Linked DNA regions of Homo sapiens. The protein of the gene in region 2 purifies or fractionates together with the protein of the main gene of each other region. This does not show direct contact. Each region holds a gene or a part of one and is shown on either strand. Other genes may lie near its edges. The genes, in order: EXOC3, EXOC6B and EXOC2.

Evidence for each region.
Region 1: the proteins of EXOC6B (region 2) and EXOC3 purify together in Homo sapiens (affinity purification with mass spectrometry; 4 studies listed by BioGRID and IntAct, with this or other methods). This does not show direct contact.
Region 3: the proteins of EXOC6B (region 2) and EXOC2 purify together in Homo sapiens (affinity purification with mass spectrometry; 2 studies listed by BioGRID and IntAct, with this or other methods). This does not show direct contact.

What each region holds. Positions count from the first base shown.
Region 1 is NC_000005.10:460,176-463,927, forward strand, and holds part of EXOC3 (exocyst complex component 3), read left to right. Parts: intron 1-1,784; coding exon 1,785-1,895; intron 1,896-1,981; coding exon 1,982-2,132; intron 2,133-3,752. UniProt on the Homo sapiens protein: Component of the exocyst complex involved in the docking of exocytic vesicles with fusion sites on the plasma membrane.
Region 2 is NC_000002.12:72,175,399-72,179,100, reverse strand, and holds the end of EXOC6B (exocyst complex component 6B), read left to right. Parts: 3' UTR 1-3,117; downstream 3,118-3,702. UniProt on the Homo sapiens protein: Component of the exocyst complex involved in the docking of exocytic vesicles with fusion sites on the plasma membrane.
Region 3 is NC_000006.12:490,490-494,241, reverse strand, and holds part of EXOC2 (exocyst complex component 2), read left to right. Parts: intron 1-3,055; coding exon 3,056-3,117; intron 3,118-3,752. UniProt on the Homo sapiens protein: Component of the exocyst complex involved in the docking of exocytic vesicles with fusion sites on the plasma membrane.

The DNA.
Region 1 (3,752 bases), on a different chromosome or scaffold from region 2:
CAAGTGTGTCTTTTGATAGTTGTGAATCAGATTGGACTGCATCGCATGAGGGCTTAGGGTTCCTAGGCCTCTGGTAAGCCGAATAGCCCCTTCCCTCCTTCAGCTGCTGGCTTGTAGATCTCTGTAGAGAGATGTCCCTCAGCCTCCTCCTCAGTCTACTGTCAGCTCCCGAGCCAGATGCTGGCTCTGCAGGCTTGGATCCCACTTATTGGTGAGTGTGCCTTCCACGATGTGGCACATCAGGAGACATGGCGTCCATAGGTCCTGTCCTGGTGGCTTAGGTACTACAGCCACGCCGCCCACTCAGAGTTCCCATTTGCCATCCATCGATAGGGGTAATGCCCAAGTCCCCACTGGCCGCCCATCCACAGGGGTCACAGCTGAGTCCCCACTGGCCCTCTTCCATAGAGGTCTTAGCCGAGTCCCCACTGGCCAAGTCTTAGCCAAGTTCCCATTGGCCCTCTATCCATAGAGGTCTTAGCCAAGTCCCCACTGGCCAAGTCTTAGCCAAGTCCCCATTGGCCTTCTATCCACAGAGGCATGGCCAAATCCCTATTGGCCATCTGTCCATGGGGATCTTGGCCTGAGTTTGTTTCTTTGGAGGTCATTGTCATTTATGAGGTTAGATTCTTCTATAAAGAGACCGTTCCTTGATCACCCTCAGCTTTTTGATGACCTGAACCACACTTTGGACAGAAATGCTAACTTCTTTCCCTTTAATTGCCAGCTTTCAGTGTGCTCCTTTCTTAACATCTCTTAAAAATAGAAACGGTATTTGTTGTATGATTCTTCCACTCCCATAGGTGCTTGAGCATCCCCACAGTAAGTTTAAAAATAGAGCGTGTCACTACCTCTGTTTGTTTTCTTGACATTTCAAGTGTCTGTTTTTAATTGGATGATTTCAGGGACAGTTTCTGAAAGGGACATTTTACCTGACATTTGATGAGGTTCCTAACACTATGAGTTTCTAGGTGAAGTGTATAGTAAATAAAATAAATAAAATAAGATAATGCTTTCCCAATTCCTCACAATCAACTATGTAGTATATTTTTACAATCAGAATGCTGAACCATATTTTTTTTCCTTTTTTCAGTTATTATTTTTTACCAACTCCTCAAAATTTTTATATTTTTTAATTGTTTTTAAGAAACAAGGTCGGTCAGGCACGGTGGCTTACGCCTGTAATCCCAGCACTTTGGGAGGCTGAGGCGGGTGGATCATGAGGTCAGGAGTTCGAGACCAGCCTGGCCAATGTGGTGAAACCCTGTCTCTACTAAAAATACAAAAATTAGCTGGGCATGGTGGGGCACACCTGTAGTCCCACCTGCTCAGGAGGCTGAGGCAGGAGAATCACTTGAACCCAGGAGGTGGAGGTTGCAGTGAGCCAAGGTCTCACCACTGCACTCCAGCCTGGGTGACAGAGCAAGACTCTATCTCAAAAAAAAAAAAAGAGACAAGGTCTGATTAGGTTACCCCGACGGGTAGCTCACTGCAGCGCAGCCAGCAGCCTTTAACTCCTGGGCTCAGGTGGTCTCCCTGCCTCAGCCTCCTAATGAGCCATATTTTAAAGCCTGAGGTGAAGTTATTTTTTGATCCATTTAAAGTAATCAACCTCTCTGTCCTTCCATTAGTCTGGATCGTCTAAAGATTGTTTTATTTTTAGAGGCTCATCCGGTCAGATGTTAGTGATGTGAAATTTCAGGCCAGGCGTGACGTCAGCGTGGCATTTGAAACAGCTCCATGTTGCCCTTAGTGCTGTCTGACCGAAGCCTGTCTGTCCTCAGATATAAAGATGAAGCGCAGCTGTATAAAGAAGAGCACCTGAGGAATCGGCAGCACCCTCACTGCTACGTTCAGTACATGATCGCCATCATCAACAACTGCCAGACCTTCAAGTGAGTGTGGCCGGGCGCTGTGGCGGGGGAGCGGTGGAGGCCGGCCTGCCCAGCCGCTGTGTTGAACCTGAACCCTTTCCTTGCAGGGAATCCATAGTCAGTTTAAAAAGAAAGTATTTAAAGAATGAAGTGGAAGAGGGTGTGTCTCCGAGCCAGCCCAGCATGGACGGGATTTTAGACGCCATCGCGAAGGAGGGCTGCAGCGGTTTGCTGGAGGAGGTCTTCCTGGACCTGGAGGTGGGCCTGGCTCTTTCCTCCTGCCGTTTTCTGGGCCGAAGCCCAGTGCTTCCTCACTGCCCTCTGGGACACAGGCTGTGAACTGTACCGTGCGGATGCCGTCTGGGGAGCCGGGCTGTGCACTTGCATTCCGGTCAGATCGCTTAAAGCGCCTCCGTTTTCGGTGACGCTGCTTCGTATGATGCAGGGTCCTTCTTACGCACAATTCAGTAGATTCACCCTGTAAGTATTAAAGACATCAGACAATTTAGTGGATTACAAAATAGAAACCGATATGTAGGGACCTGTCAAAAAGTCAAATTGAGAGTGCACACACACACACATCCTCACATAGATCAGTTTCGCTTTTGAATATAGGTACACACGCAAAAATCATTAATAAAATGAATTTAATATTGTATCAAAGGCATAACCTACCATGAAATGTAGGGGTTATTTCAGAAACATAAAGATGGCTTAACATTATTTAGAGGTATTGGCAGAAATCAGGATATATTTAAAAAATAAGACCTTGTAGGCCGGGTGTGGTGGCTTACGCCTTTAATCCCAGCACTTTGGGAGGCCAAGGTAGGCGGATCACCTGAGGTTGGGAGTTCGAGACCAGCCTGACCAACATGGAGAAACCCCATCTCTACTCAAAATACAAAATTACCTGGGTGTGGTGGCGCATACCTGTAATCCCAGCTGCTTGGGAGGCTGAGGCAGGAGAATTGCTTGAACCCGGGAGGTGGAGGTTGCAGTGAGCAGAGATCGCGCCATTGCACTCCAGCCTGGGCAACAAGAGCAAACTCCATTTCAAAACAACAACAACAACAAAATAATAAGACCATGGCCATCTGGTGGTCCTGCTGGAAAGGGGTTCCTGGGATGAGGGGTGGGATTGGTTGCTGATTCATCAGTGTCTGGTTGTGCAAGAGAACAGAAATGTGTGTGGAAGTGTCCCCAAAGAGGCAGACACTTGTAACTTTCGCAAATATGACTTAGCAAGAAGAAAATATTTACATTTGAAATTATTTCAAAATTTAAAAAGAATATATAGAAAAATGGGCAAAAGACATGAACGGCCACCTCACATTAAAAGCAACACCAGTGTCCTCATCGTGAAACTAGACGCCCGATCTTATCCTCGAAGCAATGAATGCTCAACAGGACCTGCTGCTCAGCAGGATGGCAGGAGCCGGAGACGTGGATGCTGTTCAGGCTTGTTGAGGGTGTGGGAAAAAGGGGCTGTTTGTATTCTGTGTGGGCCTGAACTGGGTTGGGTTTTTGAGGGCAGCTTGGAAATACAGCCATTGTAGTTTTAATCTGTAACTTTTACTGGAGTTTTAATTTGTACACTTCTATTGGAGTTTTAATTTGTATACTTTTATTGGAGTTTTAATTTGTATACTTTTATTGGTTTTAATGTGTATACTTTTTGACTGAAAAATTCAACTTTAAGGAATTTCATCAGAATTATACAGATTCACTGTTGCATTATTGCAAAATGTGAAAAAAATTTAAATGTCCATCAATAGAGAATTGGGCAAATAAATACGATAAATATATGTAGCCACTAAAGGTAAAATGTATACATGCACAGATATTTCCATCTTTAACATGTCATTTTGGGAAGCTCAT
Region 2 (3,702 bases):
CTGTGTTATCTTAGAGATGGTGGTATCATCAATTCCACAGTGATGAACCACCTTTCATCCATGGCTCTAAAGCTTAGGTCTGGGGCTTAGGAACCATAAAAAGTGGGTATCTGGCGCTGGGAGGTAGAGTGAGTAAGCAAAAGGATACTAAAATATGTCCTGTTCACTCTTGGATGCCCATTCACCACATAGATGAGGCTGATTCTTCTCAATACAAGGAAAGGGCATGGCAAACATTACTATTTAGTACACTAAGGGCAGCTCTGGAGGGTCATCTCCTCAGTCTGCTGACTTTCACTGGCTTGTGAACAAGCATGGCATATGGCAAGATGACAGCTTCATTCCAATCCCCCAAGAATGGCGGTTTCTTTAGCCTGATCTAACCCCAGGCTTTTATTGCAATTTTTTCTAGGGCAGGATACAGCTAAGTAGACAGCAGTAATAATTGGATCCCATGTTTAACTGCATATTGCCCCAGCTCTAGGAGTGTTGAGTCTCAACTCGAAGAGTTTTTCTGGATCTTGAAAGCCAGTTTTCATGGAATCAGAGACCCAATCCCTTCCCTGTTCATCTCATTTCCTTCACTTACAGTCAGAGCACTTGGTTCAGGACATAAATCAACAGTTACTTCCATAGGCCTTCACAGGGCGTTTCAGACTTAGCCTCCTCCAGTAATGCCATTGAAATAGTTCAGATTTCGGAAGCCTAAAAATGGCCTTTACCTTACCCTTAGGTGTAACCTGAGGATTAGTTGGGATTGTTCCTTTATGTTTTAAAACCAGCTTTTTGGTTATCATCTTTAAGGAAATGTCACCAGCTCTGCACTGTGGGGGCAGCCATGCCTGGACTGGATGCCTCTAGGGATGGAGACATTGTTACCATAAAGTCGACAGAGCCAACCATGGCTTGTGGCTTGTTGCCTCTGGCCCAACTGTCCTTCACTAAATAATATCCTAGATATTATTTTGTTGCTCAAGCCCAAGGTTCCCACCCTCTTTTGAGATCCCCAAAGCCATCTTTGGCCTTGTCTAAGAAAGATTGCCTATAATCCTGTCCTCCAAACTCTAAAGCCTGGAGCAGCTTAGCGTGGAGGCTGCACTCATTGACCCAGATGGACTCCTGAGACTTAACGCAAGGGCTTTGCTATGAGGTCAGTCGGGGGAAACTGTACTTTAAGACACTTCAGAAAGATGCTACTGGCTAGTAGCAGAAAGATGGCTAGTGGCAAGAGTATAATTGTGCATCACCAAACAATGACAAATAAGCCACACAGGCATTTCCAGCTTGGATTGATGGGAGGAGAGACTCATCAAACAGAATTCTTCACTACCTTTGTCAGCTACTGAGTTGCTTCTGGGGAGGGAAGTACTTCCTTGCCCCTCCCCAACCCCCCTACCTCACCATATCCTATCATATCTTGATAGTCATGGGGAAGAGGATGTGCACACAGACATACAAATTTCCTCAAAGCTGGAGAGACCAGGCTACATGTGAGCTCATAGATGCTGCTGAGGCTCATCCTGAGGGCTGGATGGTTGGCCAGGGTTTCAGAATGAGGGTAAGGGATGAGCACTGCCACCCAGAACTTGATAAGCCAAGAGAAGGCAGGAGCCAAAATGGCATCGCCAAGCTCTCATCTTTGTTGAAACAAGTGAGAAACGATTATATTAATCTGAAGTTCTATTGCTTGAGAAGAGTTCAAAACACTTCTCTTTGCTAGTACCCAGTTTGCAGCAAGATCTCTTCAGCTTTAAGTGCTGAGAGACTTTGAAGTGGAAATGGAGAGATGTGTAAGCATGGCACAGTGTTTGTCTTTTTAGAGGATCATCATTGCTGGTCTGGTCTCAAACCTCTGCCTTGGAAGAACTGTGCTATACAGGAAAAAGTGAACAAGGTGGAGGAATAGGGGTTATTCTGCACAGAAGTCCCATGAAAGGAAAAGCTTATTCAAGCTCAAGACATAAAGATGGACCCTTTGATATATCTTCTCTCCATTCTTAGTCTGCCTTCACCTTATCTAACAAAAAACAACATGCAGCTACTGAGTTGTATGTAGAGACATACTCTTGGTGGGCCAGGGAAGGTAAAAACAGGGACCAGCAATGTCAAGTTTTTGAACTAGAAAAGTGGGATGTTTTTAGTTTTGTCTATAACCTGTAGCTGGGCCAACCCTTGAGAGGACTTGTGCAAAGCATGTGTGCCCAGACCCATCAGACTCCTCAGATATGGCCTCAAATACCTAGAGATGTAGAAGTACCGTGGAGGGCCTCAATAAGAGGGCAAGCACACAGATGGCTAGAAGCCTGTATGGCTTCTGGTCAGGATGAACCCTTGGCCAAGTTCTTGAGGAAACCAGGTCTATATTCCTGAAGGGACAGTTCAGTTTGGGACTCTATTAGGTTTCAGTAGTAATATAGGCTGCTTGCATCATTTTAACATTCATAGGGAAAATCTCTTTGAGCAGGCTATAAATGAAGCTGTTGCAGGTAGGGAAGAACAGGACCTGAAAATGGGAACCAGGAAGTGAGATCCTGTTGGCAAAGGGAATGTAGAGCTTCCAGGGTGCATTGCCCACTGTTCTCATTGCATACCAGTCCTCCAAGTCAGTCTAGCCTTACTGTACACTTGACAAGTGCTTACTCAGCAAGTCCCAGACCCACGGCCTTTTATCTCCCAAGACTGGCTTTGGCCATGACCTTCCTCATCAGGCCTCTGAGCACACTCTCTAGGAACTGCTGCAGAAATTCCCCTACCTTAGCCTCCCTTCTCCCAGGACTCCTCTCTTGACTGCAATTGCCTCTTCTTCTTCTTCTTCTTCTTCCTTTTTGTTTTTTTTTTTTTTGCCTGCATTCACAATTACTTTTCACAAAGGTGTTGGAAATGGCATTTTTATTTTACACAGATAGTTGCACATATATAGAGAAAATTAGGAAAGTCCATTTTTAACTCTAAAGGGAACTTTTTTCTCTAAAACTTACTTGTAAAGCTACTGATACAGATGGGCCGCATGGTTAGGGGAAAGCTCCTCTGTGAAAAGAGCATGTTTATTCCTCTTGTACATTTTCCTCTTTTAACTGCTATTAAACAAGAAAGCCTACATACCTGTTTCAAAAGCCACGGTGTTGTCTCATGGGTATTTTGTTCTTCCATCCTTTTTGCACAGTGCAGCTGTGGTTGGTGAACTGGATGGCTGACATTGCATCCCCACTCAGCTGGACTGAGGACTAGAGCAGGCAAGAGCCTAGTGGGGAAGAGAAAGCCTACCTTCCACACAAGGCAAGGAGCCGTACTGTGGCCTTGGAAACATCCCTAACCCCTGGGTTACGTTTTTTCCTGCTTATGCAGCTAACACTGGCATCATCATCAAGAAGAACTTTTTGAAATGCTTGAGTTATGTGGAACACTGGGCTAGGCAACTTAGAACGCAATGTTGAACACTAGCCCTGCCAAGGAAAGGCTCCCAGTCAAGATGGAGTGTTGTAGGATTATCCAGAACAAAGCCAGGCTGGAGAAAAGGGAGAGATGAGCCTATTTTAGACTCAGTGCAGGAGGGGTACAGTCATCCTGGCCTAGTGAAGGAAAGGGTCTGGTTAGGAAAGACAGCTCAGAAGAAGCAGAATGTTAATTAGCTGGGCCTTGAAGGAATGCAAGTCAAATTTTGTTAAGTCATAGGAATGAGTATTTTTGGTGCAGACCATATTA
Region 3 (3,752 bases), on a different chromosome or scaffold from region 2:
AAAAAGAGCAGAGAGCACTTGTTAATTTGGTTAGGGGAGAATCTGTTGCAAAAGCTTCTGCTGTGTTTCCATTTGCCACCAGTTTTCTCTGAAAATTGATGTATCAGATCTTTGATATTATCGTTTAAGTTGAAAGGTCATGGTTATTATAATAGTTCCATCACAGGAGATGAGTAGTATAAACTGTGTAATACTACAGATGAATTAACAGGCAGTCGCAGTCGCTACTGTGGGCCTTAGCAGTCTTAGAATTTTAACAGGCATCCGCCCTCTCTACACATTACCTCCGTAATCCATTTATCTGATGGCTAAACCACTCTCAAAACCAGCAGGGAGAGGTTGGAAAGTGATCTCAGAATTAGCTGGAAAATTTTTTCACGTACACATGTCCAGAAACTACTGGCCATCAAACTGTTCCAGCCTCCAGTTTTTGAGACCTCCTCGGGCCTGGACAGACATGTGTATTTTGAAAAAGGTCGTGAGTCTAAACTCCCGCTTCACTCTCCCACTGAGAATGACTTTGAGAGCTTCCTTCCTTGAGGCCATAGCTCTAAGAGGGATAGCAGGTTAACCTTTGATAGGCAATTAGGTGCCAAACTCCAGAACTGTCCTGAGAGCTTGGTGAAAAGGGGAGTGACAGTTTGGTGATTTTGGCAGATCTTTTAGCATGATGTTTTCTGGATTACAGTTTTGTAGGTATTATATAGCTAACCACAGTTTTTATAATTGGCATAACTTACAGGTTAATTAAAACACTCTATCACCTTGATTGAATAAAATTTCTACCAGAAGATTGGTTTTGTAGTAATTTAATCTTTCTCCTAAAATGGTCAGCTGAAAGTTCTACCTTTTTTCCTGGTAGGTCTGTTTTTACCTATACTAGAATATAAACAAAATAGAGACAGAAATTGTCATACTTTCTAGCATTTGTAACTTTCTAGTTATATACTGTTTTTCAGGCTTCTAAGGGACTGAAAAAATGAAACCAAACAATTGCCTTCCAAACAGAAAAAGGTCACTGAATATCCTGTGTCATATATATCTGCTTTGATCTAGATGGCTTACAGAATTTCTAATAAACTGTGAAGAGCTGGCTGTGTCTTTTGTCATTGTTTTATGTTTTGTCCACTCCTTGAGAATAAGGGATATTTCTTTTAAATGTTCTCCTGTGTGTCCCACTCACTGTGGGCACCTACTTCAGAACATCAAGTTATCATTGTCAGTGGGTCTGCTGGAGCTCCCAGGAAACTGACTTGTATGTCAGATCACACTTATTCATGCTTGCGTAGAAGTGAAAGCTTAACTTTTTTCTTAAAACTTTTATGAAATATTTCACATAGCATACGATCTGTCTACAATAGAAAAAGAATATGCAATTCAATGATTTTTGGTATATTCAAAGAGCTGTCCAGTCATCACCATCATCAATTTTAGAACATTTCATCCCAAAAGAAACCCCTGACCCATTAAGTCTAATCATTTGCCTCCCAAACCACCCTTTCCCCCTACAGACAACTACCAATTGGCTTTCTATCTCTATGATTTGTCTACTCTGAAAATTTCGTATAAATGGAAACATGAAAATATGACCCTTTGTGACTGGCTTCTTTCATGTAGCGTAATGTTTCAGGGTTCATCCATGTTGTGACATATGCCAGTGCCTCGCTTCTTTTTACATATAATATTCCACTTTAAATATGCCACATTTTATTTATCCATTCATCAGCTGATGGGCATTTGTGGTTTTCCCACCTTTGATTAATATGCAGAATGCTTCTGTGAACACTCCTATACAAGTTCTTGTGTGGACATGTGTTTTCATGTCTCGTGCGTGCATACCAAGGAGCGGAATTGCTAGGTCATGTGGTTACTCTATACTTAATCTTCTGAGGAACTGCCAGACGGTTCTCCAAAGTGGCAGACATTCCTACCAGCAATTTTTGAGGGTTCCAATGTCTCTACATCCTCACCATTATTTGTTATTGTCTCTTATTGATTATAGCCATCCTAGTGGGTGTGAAGTGATACCTCATTCTGTGGGTCGTCCTTTCACATTCTGGATGGTGTCTTTGTAGCACTGGATTTTTAATTTTGGTGAAGTCCACTTTATCTGTTTTGTTGTTTATACTTTCGGCATGATTTCTAAGAAGGGTTTCCTAGCCTAAGGTCACAAAGATTTACACTGGGTTTCTTCTGATAGTTTCATAAGTTTCTTACATTTAGATCTGTGATCCGTGTTAATTTTTGTGTTAAGGAAAGGATTCAACTTCATTCTTCTGCATGTGGATATCCAGTTGCCCTAGCACCATTTGTTGAACAGACTGTTCTTCCCCCACTGAGTGGTCTTGGCACCCTTGTTGAATAGCAGTTGATCATAAATATGAGGGTATACAATATTTAAATATATTTTAGCTTTGGAGTATGGCTGAAGTCAGAAAGTCTGAGGCCTCTAAATGTGTTACTCTAAGATTGTTTTGGCTGTTCTGAGTGCCTTGCATTTCCTTATGAATTTTACAATCAGCTTGCCAGTTTCCATTAAGGAAAAAAAAAGCAGCTGTGATTTTAATAGAGATTGCATTGAATCCATAGAGCAGAGTTTAGGTTTTGAGATTAAGGCAGTGTGCCTGCAAGGGCATAGGTGTCAGGAAGCATGCCAAGCCACATCCTTACCTCTGTGGGACACGGGCCCTTTCAGGGCAGTGTTTCAAAGTGTCTTTCCTCTTGCAAGACTAAAAGAAAAATTAGTGGTTAGAGAGTAAATACAGATGGCTGGAAAATCATGACACAGTTTGTACTTTTCATAGTGAGATATCTAGTTCCCTGCCCTCACACAGTCATCCTTGACTACAAGTTAATTTTCAGTCAACGAACATTTTGTGGTAGCAAATTTCTTCGGACTGTTTTAGAAACTCTACTCATGACTGGCGGTCACCATGGTGGTATTACGCCAACCCCATCCTACGATGAGCAGGCTGGAGACCCTTAACCTTAGTACTTGTTTATATTTGATAATATAAATTTTCCTGTTGTCACTTTGTCTTTTTCTCATTTTCAGGCGAGACTTGAAATCTGTGCTTTGAGGGACACTGTGGCTGTTTACCTGACACCCGAAAGCAAGTAAGTGGCAGTGTTCTTTAGTTGAGTGCTCTATTAAAAATAAAGGTTGTCTTACTAGTCAATTCTGTCCTCTGTAAAGATGACTGATCAGAGCACATGCTCATGAATTTGTGATGTGATAAAGTTTATGTCAAGGCCACTTTGTAACACAATGTAAATGAAAGGGGTTTAATATAATTTTTTCATTTACTACTGACAAATCTTAGTCTTATAATACAGCAGAGTATGACATACTTCTTAAAGCAAAAGAGGATAAGAACTGAGTCTTAGTCTGTTCATAGCAGACTCTGAAGGACAGCTCAAGTGCTGTAAATATCAGTATAAGAGGAAGCCTTGTGGTTTCTCTGCAAAATTTTGTAGTGGAAATTTGATAATTTTTAGCTGTTTTGAATGAAAGTCAGGATTTCCTACCATTGAAATATCAGTAGGTGAAGTGAAGCAGAACTACTGTTTGTCTGTGCAAAATTGTTTACTACGTGGGCAACATTACCTAGGAAATACTGGGTTATAGTGTTGATGTGCCTGAGAAGCCAAGTCGTATGCAAATGAAATGTTTGAGGACACTGTAATATGCTTACTCACTCATTTCCAGCATCTGATAACATGGCTTGCTGTCATTCTGTCAGCTTTGCAAC